2 linked regions of the Homo sapiens genome follow. The protein of the gene in region 1 purifies or fractionates together with the protein of each later gene. This does not show direct contact. Each region holds a gene or a part of one and is shown in the gene's direction. Other genes may lie near its edges.

The links.
Region 2: the proteins of C10orf71 (region 1) and FGF1 purify together in Homo sapiens (affinity purification with mass spectrometry; one large-scale study listed by BioGRID and IntAct). This does not show direct contact.

The regions. Positions count from the first base shown.
Region 1 is NC_000010.11:49,297,661-49,301,409, forward strand, and holds the start of C10orf71 (cardiac-enriched FHL2-interacting protein), read left to right. Parts: upstream 1-1,509; 5' UTR 1,510-1,573; exon of another isoform or gene 1,574-1,629; intron 1,630-1,637; exon of another isoform or gene 1,638-1,794; intron 1,795-3,749. UniProt on the Homo sapiens protein: Plays an important role in cardiomyocyte hypertrophy via activation of the calcineurin/NFAT signaling pathway.
Region 2 is NC_000005.10:142,599,076-142,602,724, reverse strand, and holds part of FGF1 (fibroblast growth factor 1 isoform 1 precursor), read left to right. Parts: intron 1-1,919; coding exon 1,920-2,023; intron 2,024-3,649. UniProt on the Homo sapiens protein: Plays an important role in the regulation of cell survival, cell division, angiogenesis, cell differentiation and cell migration. Functions as a potent mitogen in vitro. Acts as a ligand for FGFR1 and integrins.

The DNA.
Region 1 (3,749 bases):
GATGGGTAAACTGAGGCTCAGGAAGGGTAAGTATGTGACATGTCAACTGACCAGGAAATAATGGAGCCAGGGCTCAAAATCCTGTGTACTTTTTAAATGTTGGCTCCCATCTCAAGTTGATGGCTTTTGTCTGACCTTTTGGCATGCGTTTGTTTTGGCAAATGGGGAGGTAGGGAGGTGGGTGGGTAAAATTGAGGGGTTCACTTTGGGCCTCCCTCAAAGCATCTCTGAGTGCGGAGCAGCAAGTAATCATCCCCACAGCGAGGTTCTGAAGCTCTCAGGGCAAAAGGCAAGTCTTGAGGCTCCCAGGAGGAGGCGGGTCTGAATGCTCCTGCTGGTTGGAATCTCACACCTTAGTCTGCAGGGCAAGGAGGAGCTGTTCTTTGTGACTTGGTTTAGACAAAAGTACATAGACCTGGGTCCCTGTGGCCCTGGCTGTCAGCCGGTTCAAGGCTGGAGGTGGTGCCAGGCCCCAGCTTGGGGCTGGGACACAGGTTGCTGCCCTTGAAGAGCCCACAGGGGCAGAAGGGACAGTCTACAAATAGACCCAAAGACACAGCACACTGCAAACTTGCAGAGGCTTTGAGCGCTGCACAGAGCAGGACACCCAGCGGGGGCCAGTCATCTCCGCTTTCTCAGGCCACAGTCAGGGAAGCATAAAAAAGAACCTTGGAGAGAAAGGGGGAAAAAAACCCACTCTTGCATTAAATCCTGGTAGCAAGCAGACTATCCTAGGGCCAGCTTGGGAGAGTAAGGAAGGCACTCTGGGAGCTGGCATGGCACAAGCCAAGGAAAAGCCAGTGGAAAAAGTTGGGGGATCTGTGGGCAGTTTGGGGAGCAGGTGACCCCAGCCTGAGACAGAAAGCAGCCATTGGGAAGGCAGGCATGAGCCCACCTCAGGGTTGAAGGGAGGCCAGCCCTTCCCAGAGGTGGAGAGGGGAGCCTGGCAGAACGGGACTTGTCCACTGGTGCTTGGACTTTGCAAACAACCGGGCTTGCTGTAGCCAAGCTTACCAAGTGGACACTTACCTTGCCTCTTCCCCGATTATTTCATATCCTTCTGTAACTCTCACCCTGAGACCCAGCCTGGCCTTCCCCTAGCTGCAGATTATTCTGCTCCAAAAGCACAGCAGAGGACGGCTCCTTACTCGAGGAATGCGGGCGGCGGTCGTCCAGAGCCGATGATGAAACGGGCTATTTCTGCCCCGGGACATCAGCAGGGCTCTGGGCTCTGGCTCCAAGGCACACACTCTCCTGTTTTTAATGTTTCCCTAAACAAATGTTTTCCTTCCCACCTCGGGATATTTTTATTTGACTCTAGGTGCTGGAATAGCTTTAGCAATCATTCTGGATTGAAGTTGGAATCGTGGTTAGGGTCCGGCTAAGCGGCAAGCAATTTCTCACTCCCCAAGTGATCTGTTACTCGTGGCTGATTTGGAAGTAAAAATAGCAGCTGAGGCTGTTTGTTTAATCTGACTGTTACTTGACACCACGCGGGTGTTGCAGTGCGGACTGTTTGCCTCTTCCCCACCAAGAACACCATTTGGTTTCCCCCGGCTGGGTCTCTATTTAGGTAAGCTTCGCGGACTTCCCGTGTCTGGCCGGCTTCTGGTCACTGATCTTCCTCAGGTGGGTAGGTTTGTGAGCTAGAGGAGGCTTGGGTCCTGAATCCACTCTCCTATCACCTTTGGGCAGCCTGGATAAAGAGGAAAGAAGTCTTGGCTGCTGGGCAGAGCCGGGTTTCTCTCCCATTCCCGAGGAGGCCTGAGCAGCTGGACACGCAGAGAGCGGAAGGTACAGCCCAGACACTTGTCTGGCTCCTTAGCGTGGGCAGGGAGGCTCAAGTTCATGGCGGGAGGGATGTTCCCGCTGGGCCGATGCTGTGCTGGGGAAGTAGTTCGGTGCCAGGGTGCTGTGCAGGGTGGTATGTGTGTGCCGGGAGCCCATTGGTGTTGGGGCTAAGGTTCTTGGTGTGCTGGATGGGCCTCGGGGACCACGTACCCGGAACCGTGTACATGTGTGACTTTGTCCTTAGGTGTCATCTGTCAGGGATCTCTGCTCCCACATGGCTGAGTGCACAGATGTGCCCAGGCCACTGCGCTGTCAAATGGGTGACCCCATGGTCCCAGGTTTTCAGCATTCAGGGCTGAGGGAGGCTGGCTTTCTTAGCTCCCCCAGCGCTGGGCCAGGCAGGGTCACACCAGCTGTAACAAAGAGAAAAACTGGTGACTGAGACGTTCTGGCCTGTGGGCTCTGCGAGCATGTGTGTCCCCAAAACAAAGCCCGCCACAGGCTGCCTGTTCTTACACACCCTGGGAGGGCCCCCACCAGACTCCCACAGGGTATGCTTGACTGAGTCTAAAATTACCTCTTTTATTTTCTGGTGGAGAAGAATTGAACATTGAGAACGGCAGTGGTCAATGTGTGTGGAAAGCTAGATAGCCTTAAGAAAAATCATTGTGTAGGCCTTTCAGGTAGCTCCCTAAGTATAGGAACCTGGGAAGCAGATTAAACAGATGTGTGTAGTAAATGAGGTCCTGTTTTCCAGCATTTGAGTTCCCTTTGCAGTAGTGGCTGGTAACTCTGGTCTGTGGTCTGAGCATCTGGTTTTGTAAATAAAGTTGTATTGGCACACAGCCACCTTCATTCATTTGCATATTGTCTAAAGCTGCTTCTACACTATATCAGCAGAAACCATATGGCCTGCAAAACTGAAAACGCTTACAATGTGGCCCTTTACAGAAAAAGTTTGCTGACCACTGTGTTACAAGAACACATCTTGAGATGGGTCAATTTAATACAAAAAAAAAAAAAAAAAAAGCAGTGAAAGTTCTTGCTGTTAGAATAGTTTGTAAGCCAGACCCTTCAGGACCAGTGGCTGGCTGGCTCCTGAGCCTCCTGCACCTTCCAGGGCCCACTTTTTAGGCCTGGCTGATACAGGAAATGTCCAGTTTGCTGTCACGGTGCTGGGAGGGTTAGCTTAGCAGTAGAATCACCAGACACACAGCGTGTCCATGTGGCCTGGGCTGAGCAGGGCAGATTGTGCTTATCGGGGTGATTTATAAATAGCCTTCCCCGGGTGACCCAAGTCCAACACACATCTGCCCCTGGGTCTCTGGGAACAAGTTTGTCTGCTCTTGGATGACCAGAAGCTCACTGGGAAGGGAACAACTGTGTGCGGTGGGTAAGAAGGGGGCTGGTAGAATGCTGTGTCCTGGAGCAGAGGGGCTTAGGTCTCCTGGAACCTGGGGAGAGAAAGCTGTTGAGAGTAGACAGGAAGGCCAGAGATGGCCTTGCATCCTCCCACCTTGATTTCTTTTTGCCAGGACAGAAGTAAGTGTCTTTGTCTTTTCCTGACCCTAAGGAAGCCCTGGAGACCCTTACTGAAGAGGGGAGGCCTCATGTCTTGAAATAGCCCTATTCCTCCAGTCTCTGCCAGAAATCTCAAGAACCCAAGCCTGCTGGTGGCACCAGAACTGGGCCGTCTTCCTCATTGGCTCTTGGGATTTTACTCCATATGCCCTGGGTTACTGGAGGGAAGCAAAGGGCTTTGAGAGAAGGCCACGCTACAGGGGCACACAGGGCTGCTGCTCCCCAACAGGGTCCATCGAGGCTGGAGTGGATTTTGGTTTTATTTCCATTTGAGAGTTTAAACCTCATTTCACAAAATCCAGCCAGTCCATAGTCTTTATCTCAATCATATGCTTCATTTAGTTAATTGGAAAAATCTCAGACACCCCCTCATTTCT
Region 2 (3,649 bases), on another chromosome or scaffold:
AAAAAAGCAAGGTGCAGAACTGTGTGCTCAGTACATTACCATTAGTATGAGATAGTATGTCTTTTGCAATATACGCACACAAGCTCTCTAGAAAGGATACACACACAAGGTGTCTAGGAGGGGTTTCCTTGTTTCTGCATCCCCCCAGGAGATGTGCACTCCAGAACGAAGCTTTTCACTATCTCCTCTGCTGTTTGGGAAAATGGAAGTATATTTCCTATTCAAAGAAATTAAATTAAAAATGAAAACAGGCCAGGCGCAGTGGCTCACACCTGTAATCCCAGCACTTTGGGAGGCTGAGGCAGGCAGAGCATAAGGTCAGGAATTCGAGACCAGCCTGGCCAACATGGTGAAACCCCATCTCTACTAAAAATACCAAAATTAGCCGGGCATGGTGGTGCATGCCTGTAATCCCAGCTACTGGGGAGGATGAGGCAGGAGAATTGCTTGAACCCGGGAGGCAGAGCTTGCAGTGAGCCGAGATCGCGCCACTGCACTTCAGCCTGGGCAACAGAACAAGACTCCGTCTCAAAAGAAAAAAAAAAAAAGAAAAGAACACAAAGAAAAGGCAATGAGGGGTCGAGATCTACCAACCAAAGCTCTGTGTGTTCCAGCCTCTCCTGCCCCTTGGCCTCTGCCAAGATGAACCTCAGAGATGCCCCCTCATCCTCCTAGGGAACTAACTATTGGGCAGCCACTGGTTCCTGGTCTAGATTTCACTCCTAGTTGTAATGATGGTTGTGACGGTCTAGTGACCAAATAAATTATCCCGAAGAGTCTAGAATTAATTCCAATTCCCAAATGTGAATTATCAAAGCACCTTTCTCAAGAGGGCACCCTAGGGTGAATAAACAAGTTAATAATTATCAAATGGACATTGGATTCCAATTAAGTGTCCAGCACCTTGGGAGTGTCAATCAGTGTGAATGAGGAGAGTGTGACTCTGTAACTCATAGTCCTTTCCCTCCATCTCCAGGTTTCTCAACCTGGACGCTGCTGACTTTTGGGCTGGAAAATTCTTTGCTGTTGGGGGCTGCCCTGTGCATTGTAGGATGTTAGCAGCATCTCTGGCCTCTACCCACTAGATGCCAGTAGCACCCGCCCCCCCTAGCTGTGACAACAGAAACTGTCTTCAGAGATTGCCAAATGTCCCCTTTGGAGCAAAATCACCCCCAGTTGAGAACCACTGTTCTCATCACTGCATTTCCAGGTAACGGCTTCATTCTCCCCCCATCAGAAGCTGGTGATCTCCCCTCTGCCTCTACCCCAGGTGGGTTGCCATAGAGGCTGAGGGATTGACGGAAACTTCATTGTGAGGGAGTTCCCCGAGTTTCATATGTGGCAACCAGTCCTAACTCCCTGGGAACCTCTTCTGTCTCAGGGAAAACAGCAATCTCAGATTTTATAAAATAACGATCTGCGGACAGGAATCTCTCCCATGACTAGAAGGCCCAGACAATTAAAAGGCACCCCTGTGCAGGTTGATAATGAAAGCAGAACACATGCAGGCTGGCCAGATCCTACTCTATGGCATCCCAAGATTGCAGGGATGAGGGAGCCCGGGGGAGTGAGTGCCATTTCCTCCTGTGATTATTTTCCTACAAGTGACAGAAAGAAAGGAGCGAGGCACCGTGAAGGTGCACTCAGGGTCATTTTGTAACCAACAGGGTGGACAGGTAGGTGAGCCGGCCGTTGTCTCTCCTTCCTTTCCCAAGGACGTAATTCCCAATGGACAGCTTTCTTTGGAAGGCAAAGAAAAAGGGACTGTATTTCTATGTTTTGATTAATCTGAGGCTCATCCCTGAGGGCTCCGTGAAATGAATGAGCAGAATTTTCCATGGCCAACTGTCCTGGCTGCCGGGTCCTATCGGCAAAAGCGTAGTGTTTATTTACTTTTGCTCGTGTTATTTTTATTCCAGTTCAGCTGCAGCTCAGTGCGGAAAGCGTGGGGGAGGTGTATATAAAGAGTACCGAGACTGGCCAGTACTTGGCCATGGACACCGACGGGCTTTTATACGGCTCAGTAAGTATGAAGCTGACATGCTTCCAGACGTGGCCAAGGTTTGAGGTTTCCAGAAATCTTGTTACATGGAGTGAGGCAAACTATAAAGCAACAATTAGTCTCTGTTTGTTATTTTTTCCAGAAGGATTCCCACCCTCACTCTGCTTTATTTTAGGCACAAACATAAAAGAGTTTCTTGTAGTATTCTCTCAAAACTCTCAAATGTATTATCATATAAACACAGAGTAAAGATTGATTGATGTTTTGGTAACTCTTCAATCACTCATTTTAGAATATCTAATCCCATTCCATTCATTCATTCATTCATTCCAAAAATGTTTTTCTTTCTTTTTTTCACTTTGAGACAGGGTCTGGCTCTGTCGCCCAGGCTGGAGTGCAGTGGCACAATCATGACTCACTGAAGCCTCGAACTCCTGGGCTCAAGAAATCCTCCCCCCTCAGCCCCCTGAGTAGCTGGGACCACAGATGAATACCACCATGCCCAGCTAATGTTTTTATTTTTTGTAGAGACAAGGTCTCACTATGTTGCTGAGGCTGGTCTCAAACTCCTGGGCTCGAGCGGCCTCAGCCTTCCAAAGTGCTGGGATTATAGGCCACCACACACAGCCCAAAAATGTTTCTTGAGTACCTAGGTACTACGTGCTATAGGTGTGTCTCTTATTGCTTTTTACACAAATGGCAGAGCCTGGGCTTTCATAGTTTATATGTCATGCACAAAACTTTGAAAATAGCCCCTTTTATTCTGAAAGGATCACCTAAAAGGATAGAAAGCTTAATAACTTAATTCAACATTTATCAAATGTCTCCTGTGTCTAAGTGCCATGTTAGGTACTGAAAGGGTGTGAGGATGAATGAGCTGCAATGGAGAGGCATAGTCTAATTGTTTCTTCAGTAGCTAAAATCCTCCATGTTCCCTGCCCTTTCCCTATCATAGCTAGTGCTTTATACAGGTTTGACCATGTATAGATAGGTCTTTATGGGAAAGGAATAGAAATAGAGGCAATGTGATTTTGCCCCTATTGGTATCTCTGTGACAGGAGTTAACTGGAGAGACAGCTTAAACCAATGACTGCGGGTTTTGAAGTTATTTCTAGATTTTAATGTTCCCTCCTCTGTATCCTAACAGTTGATAAACTAAGGCTTGGCTGTAATTCCTAGCCCAATCCACACCCCTTTCCTCCCTTTTATGAAGATGTCTTCAAAAAGACAGTCAGTAGGGGGAATTTTAGTCTGGAGCTTCAACTTACATCGAATTGCCAAGTGACAGAGGGCACAGAAACCCTCTCTTGAAGTTGTCATCTCAGCCAAGGGTCCCAATGTGAACACAGCTTCGTTTCCTCTCACTGCCCACTAGGGATCAGGAGATTAAATCATCAGCGTAATAGGTAACCTCTAAAATGCTATGTGCTCAGTACAGATCACCTGGGACGGCTTTAAGGGGTTTGGCAGTAGGGGATTTTTTTAAGGTAGTTCTTCCAAGTGGTAGTAAAATCAATCCATCAGTCAATCGCTTAGTCTCAGACTCATGATTGAATCTCACGCCTCTGCCACTCTGGCAAGTCACTTACCCACTCTGAGCTTTGTCTAAAATGAGGACAGTCATGGATCATAACCGCCTCACACAGA